3 linked regions of the Homo sapiens genome follow. The protein of the gene in region 3 purifies or fractionates together with the protein of the main gene of each other region. This does not show direct contact. Each region holds a gene or a part of one and is shown on either strand. Other genes may lie near its edges.

Evidence for each region.
Region 1: the proteins of DHX36 (region 3) and SEPTIN7 fractionate together in Homo sapiens (co-fractionation; one large-scale study listed by BioGRID). This does not show direct contact.
Region 2: the proteins of DHX36 (region 3) and HEBP1 fractionate together in Homo sapiens (co-fractionation; one large-scale study listed by BioGRID). This does not show direct contact.

Annotation. Positions count from the first base shown.
Region 1 is NC_000007.14:35,884,412-35,888,068, forward strand, and holds part of SEPTIN7 (septin-7), read left to right. Parts: intron 1-1,416; coding exon 1,417-1,468; intron 1,469-3,657.
Region 2 is NC_000012.12:12,983,164-12,986,820, forward strand, and holds part of HEBP1 (heme-binding protein 1), read right to left. Parts: intron 1,480-3,657; exon of another isoform or gene 181-1,479; intron 1-180.
Region 3 is NC_000003.12:154,317,831-154,321,487, forward strand, and holds part of DHX36 (ATP-dependent DNA/RNA helicase DHX36), read right to left. Parts: intron 1-3,657.

The sequences.
Region 1 (3,657 bases), on a different chromosome or scaffold from region 3:
GGTCCCAAGCATTTCAAATAAGAGATACTCAACTTGCCCCACCCTGGCTGGCATCCTGCCTCATCATTAAGTCTATTTCTGTTTTCATATTTGAAAACATAACTAAAATTGAGGGGTTCTTTACCTGGGGCCCAAAGTTTGCTCCCAGGGAATCTAATGAACCACCTGGAATCAAACATTTGGAGAGAAGGCCAGTCACTTTTATCGGAACGTCAGATGGTCATGGACCCTCAAGAATGATTGAAGAAATTTGTAAGCCCAGTTAAAACATCCACAGTCTTCTTTCCTCAGTGCAAAAGTTGCCCTTTTTGATATCTCATATTTAGAGTAAAAAAATTTCGTTAATAAGAGATCCTCTTTACTAGTTTTGTAAGGAGTTTTTTGTTTTCTTTTTTAACCTGCTATCTTAAATTATTAAGGGTTAAGTAAGGAGTTTTAAATACCAATAAAATCTTAGTTATAACACCAAGCCTCAGAAGTACTTCCTCTTGGCAATAGGTTTATTGTATTGGTTTAATCTGATACTTAATCTTCTGTATTATAGTAAGCTGAAACCAAAATTGAGATTTGATTGTTTTATCTGTTTGTTGCTATTATTTTTGAACTTCGTTTTTTTTTTTAAGAGACAAGGTCTTGCTATGTTGCCCAACTGGCCTCAGAATCCTGAGCTCAAAGTGATCCTCCCACATCATGCTCCTCCCACATCACGTCACTATAAGCACACACCACTGCCCCTGGTTTATTTTGAACAATTCTTTAATTTTTAGGATATTGTTTCAGGTAACTGTCCTTATTGGCAATTTTCCCATCAGTGACCTGTGTACCTTGTTCCCAGCTCTCTCTATCATGCCCAGGCAACTTTTACTTGCTGAGCTGGGGCTTTAGAACTTACCCCTTAAAAATACGCACCGGAGAAATTGATTTGCATCTCTCTTTTGTAGTTTACCCCTCTACTCCCAAGTAATATTCCTATTTGTGATACATTCTTTAAAAATAAAAGTAAAGAACCTGAAAGTTCTTGGCTCCCTTTTTCATTTTGGTTACCTTAAGATTTTTTCTAAAGTGATTCTCCCTTCACTCACACCACTGAATTTTTTAAATGTATTATAGAATAAATATATTTTTTACCAATAATAAGATTTCCCCTTTCAGAATTTCAAAGTTGTTTCTGGAGAGTTCATTTGTTAGGTTTACATATCTATTTCTGAGGATTAAACTACAATAAGGCAATAATAGAGTACACTTCTCTGTCATGCCCTCACATTGAGTGTACTATGTTAGTGTTAAATCTCAAAAAAATTGATCTGTTTTGCATTTCCTCTTCTTGTTTTTACACCCCAAGTTCCTGTGAAATATTTTTTGAAAAGACTAGGTTTAGTGGAAATATAACATATGCGGTCTGCTTTTTTCTTACAGTTGAAAATGGTGAACATTGTGATTTTACAATCCTAAGAAATATGTTGATAAGGTAAGTGCAAGCAATGATGGAAATAGCATAAGATTTTCTTTCCCTAAGTAAGAGTTGGACAGATTTACTTTTTGCCTTCTATAAATGTAGCTAATTTAAATTTATATCTTCAGTCTAGCCATGAAGTAAACACTACATATAGATGATTCTTTCTCCAAGGTTTTGAAGTCATGAGCAAAAGTTGCAAAGTAATTTGTCTAGGGATACATAGGAAAATTAGTCTCTTTATCATTATACTTTGTGTCGAGATTTAATACTGAAATAACTATGGAAAGTGAAGTAGAAGAGGCTCTTTTTTCTTAATGTGAAAACCTTGTGAAAACTATATAAGAGAAGGCTAGTTTTTGAGTCCAAAGCTAGAATTTGAATGTTAAAAGGTGCACAGCCTGGTAGCTGGTGAGTAGGGCACATTTTATGTACTGGAACATAGTGAATAAAACCAGTATTCCTACCAGGTGAGAAATCCCTAAATTGTGTCTTACACACCTGCTGAAAGAGAAGGAAAGCCTATGGGAGCAGGACATCGAGGCCATCCTGATTAGAGGACCAGGACTGTAAAGAGGATCTCTTACTAATGAATTAGAAAAGCAGCAGCAGAGAGGAAATCATGAAGAAAAAGTGTAATAGGACTAGAGATGTTAGTAGACAAGGAACAGAAAGGGCATCAAAATGATCCTCAGTATTTTCATGTTGAGACACATTCATTCCCCTCCCTACCTGACTCCGCATTTCCCACTTTTCTCTCTTGCTTCTCTACACCTTTACCACATACTCTCTTTAACCTTCAGTTTTAGATGTCTGTCTTTAGTTGATATCTATTAATTTTCATACCTCTACCCACTTTCCCAAAACATAAGAATCTCTTTTGCTGTGTAAAGAAAGGTAGTTACATAAATATGGATAATAGTTGGAAATCATGGAATAACAAGAGGTCATTCTCAAGGTGAGAAGTGAGGGGGAAAATTTAAGACAGTCAAACTGCTACCTCAAGAAATACAATAGAGGTGAGAGTGAATTTTGAAATTAAATAAATGGCATGTAATTGATCTTTATTTTCAAAGGAGCAGGTGTTCTTGGTAGGAACTACATGATAGGTTTAATTCAGCAGTTGAGGTTGCCAGGCCTCACTTAGTGGAGAAGAGCAAAAGCACGAGAAGGTCATCTTCTGGGTTTTGAGAATACAACACTTCAGGCTCTATTATGAACCATTCCCTTCCTCTTCCATTCTTAAGGTGTGACTTCAAAAGAATACATATTAATAATATAATCTGCTATGACAGTATATAAGTAGAGAATGTTTAATAAATACTAATTTACCATTGCATTCCTCTTGTTTTTAAATCTTCTATGGTACTTGCCTAGTGCTTGACACAATGGCATTCTATAACTTTTTCTTGTGTATTTTAAAAGTATACAATCAATAATTTCCTACATACCTAAAACACTGTAGAGGGGAAAGCTAGTTACTGAGCCAGAGGCTACTTTGTTGAGATGGAGTCTCACTTTCTTGCCCAGGCTGGAGTGCAGTGGCACGATCTTGGCTCGCTGCAGCCTCCACCCAGGTTCAAGTAATTCTCCTGCCTCAGCTTCCTGAGTAGCTGGGATTATAGGCATGCACCACTACACCTGACTAATTTTTGTATTTTTAGTAGAGACAGGGTTTCACCGTGTTGGCCAGGCTGGTCTCAAACTCCTGACCTCAAGTAAACCACCTGCCTCAGCCTCCCACAGTGCTGGGATTACGGGCTTGAGCCACCACACCCACCCAGCCCAGAGGCTACTTTGAATATTCGAAGGTTCACAGCCTGGCGGCTAGTGAGGGACCTCCCTAGTATAAGCATTACAGAGCAAATTGACCATGCCTGCAGGAAGATTTAATACAGCAGAGCAGCAAGACTTTTATGCCTAAAAATTCTAAAGTTATTATTAAAAAGATGTGTATTTAATTTAGCTCATGTCTTTAAGACAAAGCCATCTAGTGGATATTTAATAAATACTTGAAGGAAGGAAATAAAATACCAATACCAATATTACAGATGTCTGTAAATCCCAAATAATTGAAATCTTGCAGGTCAAAGGAATAGTGATTGCTTCTAAGAAAGAGGCAAGTTCAAAGAAGTTCTCTTGCTAATTAAGAGAACTAACTTACTCCAGGCAAACCAAGGAAGACGATGGAAAGGAGGAAAACT
Region 2 (3,657 bases), on a different chromosome or scaffold from region 3:
CTGCTGTTGGTCCCTATTGAGAACCTGGTGCTGAAATGAGCTGAAAAGGCCAAACTCTAACTTAAGTGCATAGAGAAAGGACAGTAGTCTGGAATGTTGCTGCTGGTCTAAGTGTGAGGATAATTCTATTGCCTCTTGTGAATACTAAACATATTCTGATAGTGCTATTTTTTTTCACAGCATTCTATTCATCTAAAAGCACCGGTAATTAACGATGCTAATAAATGTATAATCCCTTTGTAAACATCTCTTCACAAGGTCATAAAGAAGGAAGACTGAATGAAGGACGCCAGGCTTTCATTTTAGAATTAATTTTGTCATTGAATGCACTCACTGCATTATTTGATAGAGTACTTTTGCATTTGAAGTAGTACATTTGCCTTCTACCATCTCATTAACATTGCTTTCAACAGAATCAGAAATAACACAAACCACTGCAGGGTAATTTTGAATGCTCATTTGACTATGCAGTGACATCAAGTGGCGAGTTGAGGAATGATCATATGCTGTGTGAGAACTCCGTGTTAAAAATTCCATGGAGCCAGGCTAGACACCACATTTGGCACTTTCAGCTGTTTAGATTTCAGAGAATTAAAAGGAAATGGTCACCGACCTGCCTTTGATAGTACCCGTATACCCCTTCCCACCATAAGAAACCAGCGTTCCTTAGAGAAATGGCTAATTCTAGCTCTAGGGCAAGAAATGCTAAGATGTGCTCAAAACATCTCATTATACCAGCAAGCCAGGGAGCCATCAACGACTACTGGAGCTGTGTCAAAAGGACCAACAAACCAACTTGAAGAGGCTCCCGCTGGCCAACAGTGGGGCAATTAGAGCATCAATAAGAATAATATCTGTAACAAACTGAAACGTATCAAATATGTTTAAATTCATATGTTTATAATTACACTCAAAAAACGAAGATGCAGACCACTTTACCTTGAGGATGTTACAGAATGAAATTATCATTCTGAAAACTGGTAAATAAAGAGAAGGTATCAAGTAAGCATGTATCTGGCTTTTTCTATATGAAATAAAGGAAGCCAAATAGTAAACGAGGGGAAGTTTCTCTTTACTGAAATATTGCAGGTAATAAAAGAAGAAGGAGAAACAGAGAACATTATCGTTTTATGGCCTCTAATGGAACAAGACATCTAGGCAATGATGAACTATGGTCACCAACATCACTCAATCAGGGACAATCAGACACTGTGGGCCCCTGAAGGAAGTAAACACCACCACGTAGGAAATATTCTCACCAAAACTTCAAAAACTTGAATCTGATCTAGTCTTTAGTTTCAACTACTAATTTACAGGCAATACGGGGCTCAGAGGGATGTGGTAAAATGTCACGGAAATATAATCAGCAAAATCCAGTACAGATAATAAGAAGACAAATGATCCACAGATGGAAAGGAAGAATGTAAAGTTGTGTTGGTAAAGAAATTCACAGATTAATAAAAGCTTAAAAATGTACCATCAGCCAGGTGTGGTTGTGTGCAACTGTAGTACCAGCTACTTGAGAGGCTGAGGTGGGAGGATTACCTGAGCCCAGGAGTTTGAGGCTGCAGTGAGCTATGATCACACCACTGCACTGCAGCCTGGGCAACAGAGCAAGGCCTTGTCTCTTAACAACAACAACAAAAAGAAAGTACTACAAAATCTGACTTGGATCCAGATTCTAACAAAATATTAAAACAAATGATGGCCAGGCGTGGTGGCTCACGCCTGTAATCCCAGCACTTTGGGAGGCCGAGGCAGGTGGATCACAAGGTCAGGAGTTCAAGACCAGCCTGGCCAAGATGGTGAAACCCTGTCTCTACTAAAAAACTACAAATATTAGGCACAGTGGCAGGTTCCTGTACTCCCAGCTACTTGGGAGGCTGAGGCAGGAGAATTGCTTGAACCCAGGCAGCAGAGGTTGCAGTGAGCCAAGATCGCACCACTGCACTCCAGCCTGGGCAACAGAGAGAGACTCCGTTGGAAAAAAAAAAAAAGTAATGGGGGAAATCTGAGCATTGAATATTTTATATTATAAATTAATGAAGTACTATTGAAATTTCAGAAAAAAGGTATTGTGATTATATTTTAAAAAAATCTTCAGTAATTACCTGAAATATTTATGAATGAAATAATATAATGTCTGGAATTTGCCTAAAAATAATCCAGGGTAGGGCTGGGTGAATGCTGTGAAGATACACATGACACAGAATTGGCCTTGAGCTGATCGTTGCTGTAGGTAGGGGATGGGCACATATGATTTCATGATCTTATATGCTTCTACCTTTCTATAAGTTTGAAAATTCCCATACTAAAAAGTTAAAGACAAAAGAAAAAAAAATTATATCCACTCATTACTCAGGGTCTGGTAAAACAAATGATCAGAAACTAGCCCCATCTGCTTGAAGTCTTAATGTGAACTGATTCAATCATGTCTATCTCATTCCTTATGAAATAAGAATGAACAGACAGAAGGGGTAATTGCCAAAACCTGCTTCAGGTCATAAACATTAGGTAATACATAAATAGTATCTTAGTAAATACTGAAAGATATTTAACAATAATCCTATAAGGTTACATTACATGCACACACACACACATCATATATAGGAGGTTATATTATCAGCACTTAACAAATGCAAAAGCTAAGTCTTAAAGTGGCTAACTTCCCAAGCATCATTCTGCTAGTAAGCAGTAGAGCTGGAATTCAAATAAAATACAAGTTCATTTTATTATACCTGCTGCTTCCCAAACACAGGAAATAGAATGGAAAAGACAAGCAGACATCTAACCCAGGGCACAAGATTTAAGGAGGCGCTCACTCTCAGTCCCCATCCTGCACTTGGACAGCTGTGAGAGTGAGTGCTTCCTTAAATGCTGCACCCAAGGTGCATCTCCACCCTAGGAAAAGATATTGTTAAGTTAATTTGCTTTCTCCACACCCTCTGAAGGGAAGCTGGGAAGTCTGAATGAGGACTGCAGGACAAGCACAGGAGCTGAGGCTCCGGTGCTAGCTCCCAGCTGCATTACATTCACTGTCCTCTGGAGGGCCCTGCAGTCACCTGGCCTAGGACTACACACAGCGGTGAAACTCACATTCTCAGAACATTGACACAGCTCCGGGGAAAATGGTCCCACCATCAGGTTCAGGGTTGCAGCAGGGCAGCCAAGTTTGGAGGTCCCTGAAGTGGACCAATACTCAGTCCAGTGCAATATTATATGTATGTGAATTTTTCATGAGGTTGCTCCTGAGCGGAGCCAAACCACCTATGATTACTTCTGGTGAAGATCCTGGTCTTTCCCTGAGCCTGGTTTGGTGCCTGTCACATGGGAGTGTTTTAACAAATGTGAGGAGTCATCAATGATCTAGAAGACTTGGTTTCTGAGGGCAGTTTGGAGCACAAGGGATAGAAACTAGTAACCATTTGCACCTGCTATTCTCTACAGTCAAGGGAAAATGACCCCACATGAAGTCCTGGAAACAGGACCAGGATGACAAGAGAATAGATGTGTGCTCTGCTCAAAGGACTACCATCCAGGAACAACAAGGAGGATGGAAGCCCAGCTCTAGCAAATGCTCCCTGCTCTCTGGCATTCAAAGGGAGTGTGGGGTAGAAATCAGGTATTCCTCAGCCCTTTATGCTTCCCATGTGTCCA
Region 3 (3,657 bases):
TTGTTTATTTTTTATAGCAATCCACAGTAAAACTAATGACCCAGTACACACATATACAAGTAATTTCACAAAATACTTCCCTTACTCTGTACAGTGCAACTCTTATCTTCTCTTCACTGTATTCTATCCCAATTAAACAAACACCAAAATAGCTGGTCACAACAAAGTTTAACATAAAGTTTGAAAACCCAGGGTGGGTAGAGGAGTATGTGTCCCAGGAGAACAAGACATAAGCATCTTTAAGACAAGAGACAGGGTTTTGTAAGACATTCTAATTCTAATCAGTATTACATGCTTTGTGAAAGCTCAAATAAGTTTACATGGGTAGGAGGATAACCTAATGTAATAAATATGAGAAATCAGTGATAAAACAACAAACCTGAAGAAGCAAAGCAAATGAACTATATGTTACCTCCTTTTTTGAAGTGAAAATGAGTGGCTAATTTCAGTTGTCAGGACATAAAATGTCTCTACTAAAAGTCCTCTTAAGGTTTTTTGATGTATCTGTTTAGTTAGAATATAACCTATATCTGCTATTCCTACAGTTCTCACTTTTCCATGTTAACTCATTACTCTATATTTTGTTTAGTAAACAATTTCCTAGATTGACATTTCACAATACATTGCCCACTTCCTGCCCGTAACAGCACAAAAGATTATTCTAATTTTATGAGATTTCACGCCCCCGGAAAAGGTGAATTACTGGATAACATAACAGTCTACTGAAAATAAACAGATCTACACAATCTTCCAGTCCAAACTATCACAACAAAATTCATTTTCATTAAAAAGTCAACATCAGTTGGTAGACTTTAAGATACCTTACACAATGCATATGTACCAAGTAAGCATCTGCTAATCAATAAGGAATTAGTTGAATTGTAGTACACCCAGTGGTTAACAGTGGGTAGATCTTTCTGCAAGTATATAAACAGGAAAGATGACCAAAGTATTAAATAAGTCAGTTGTGTAGTAGGATCTTGTTTTTATTACTATTAATTTGAAAAGAGGTTATTCACTCTCCATATCCTATACTTCTTGCAGTGTCTCTGCCAGATATAATTCTGGTACATGGTATGTGCCCCAGAGAAGTCTGTCAATGGAAGGAATGAACAGCTGAATCTTTTACAATGAGCATGTATGATTAGCCCTTGAAAATGTAATTTACACTCTAAATAAAAACATTTGTATTTTTAATGATGTTCTCCCCACAATGAGTTTCTGGATGCTGCAGGTAGCAGAGAACATACCTTAATTCCAAACTTGGATCTTGCCTTTTTGTAGGATGCCTCTCTCCCCCTCAACAACCTTCTTCTAGTTCTACCACGCTTCACTTTATTTCACTCCTTGCCTGGAGAATCTCAAAACACATTTTTTTCATGACTATTTTCTTTTATCATAGAATTTTGATTATTTCCCACTTTCTTGGACATTCTCAAATACCCTGCTTCTAGTTTTCAGTTCCTGGCAAGAAACCCTAAATGATGTCCATCAAATTTATGTTATCAGCTTTCTAATTATCTGCAACTACTTCACACTGTCTCCCCATTCTCTGTAACAGGCCAATACCACCCTTTTGTTTGCCCTCAGCATTCACACGCAGTTTTTCACAAAACAAAAGCCCTAAGAAAAGGTCCTCAGTTGGTTATCACCAAACCTAAACCCGCCTGTATCAGAATTTATCCTTTTCTCTTTTCTTTCTTGTTATAAAAGAAGTGCATTTTAAAGGCTAACCCCTCAACCTGAGCTCTGCAGTCCAGTTCCTTTCATGTCCTCAGGGCCACCTCCTTCACTGAAATTTACCTTGCTTTCCTAAATTTCTAACCTCTCCAGTAGACATTAGGCAGTCAACCGATATTCTGGTTTGCTTCTTTTAGTAATGTGGTAGAGAATCAAACCTTGCTTGTTATAAACCATTAAGATTTGGGGGTTGGTTATTACTGCAGCATAATTTGGCCCACTTTGATTTGCCCACTTTGATTTCCTCTTCACTGGGTGCTTCCCTCAGGGCATGAACATGGTCAAATCTCTTCACCTTAAAAACAAAAAACCCTCTCGTGAATTCCCCTACCCCTATCAGCTACGGCACTATTTTTCTTCCTCATCTTCACAGCAAAACTACTGGAAAATGTTCCACTTCTGAATCTCTGTTTCACTTGCCACCCTACCGCAATCTGGCTTTTACTTCCACAATGCCACAGAAAGGACTCCCATTAAGATCATCAACGACCTTGTTGATAAATCCAATAGACATTCTCTGCTCTTACATCATTTGTGCATGCTTGCCACTATCAATTACTTCTTGTTGATACGCTCTTCTCTCCTTTAAACACTACTCTTAGATTTCAAAACAACACACACCTTATTTTTCTCTTCTCTAGCTGATCTTTCCTAGATTATTTTGTAACCTTCTTTTCCTCAGCCTGTCCTTAAATTTTCATTTTCCGTATTTGACAGCCTGAGTGATCTACAGACCAGCAACACTGGCATCACCTGGGAGCCTGTAACAAAAGTCGAATCTCTGATCCCACCAGTGTCCTACATTTTAACAAGATGTCAGGTGATTCCTATGCACATTCAAGTCTGAGAAGCAATGGTCTATAGAATTCAGGCTGGGCCCACTCTATTTCTGACTGTTCACTCCCACACTCCAACTACTACCCATGAGCCCATTAACTGTCAAATACTTATCTCCAGTCTAGATTTTTCTAGGCATCAGATCTACACAGCCCTCTCCCTCCTGCAAATCCTCATTTGTATGCCCTATAACAATATCAAACTCATAGTGTCCATAGCTGAGCCTTCTTCCAACAAGCCTGATCCTTACAGATAGGCATAAAAGAGTCATCATTAACACTGTACTCGTCCCTTCAGATAAAATACATCACAAAATCATTTTGAGTCTACCTCCTAAATCACTTTAATCTGTCCACTCCCCTCCATCTCCACTGCCAACGTGCTAATTCAAGCTGTCATTTCTCACCTTAGTTACTGCAAGGGCTACTTCACTGGTCCCCCTGAACCAGGATTACCTCTCTTCAATCCATTCCTTATACTGCTACCAGAGTGAATTTAAACATTTAAAATCCAGTCATTTCATTCTTTGTTTAAAATGTTTTAATGACTTGCTACAGTCCTTAGAAAGACTCAATGTATCTCAAGGCCCCGCGTATTTTTCTAGCCCAGAGATTTTCAAATTGCTGTTTCTGAAATTATATTAAAGGATCATGACCAGCATTAATAAAAAGAGAACAGAGAAGTTCAAAAGCAAAAAAACCTCAAAGCAATGTGCAGATAATTAAATATTATTTTACAAAACTTTTCATCTAGTTATACATATGTGTGTACTGGGTTGTAAATTCAAATACATTCCTTTTTGGGCAAAGTGGCCAACAAGTTTGAAATTGACTGCCCTAACCTCATCTCAATACACTCCACATCCATGTTCTTATCTTTTACAGTTTCTCGAACTGAAAATGTGCTTCCTTGATCTCTATGTTATGGCACATGCTACTGCCTTTGCCTGGAATCTTTTCCAAACCCCAAACTTCAAACACACACACGTACATTCACTTTGTTATCTTTCAAGTTTCAACTTAAGGGTTACTGTCCCTGAAAAATCTTCTAAAATACCTTGCCCTGAGTTAGGTGATAGCC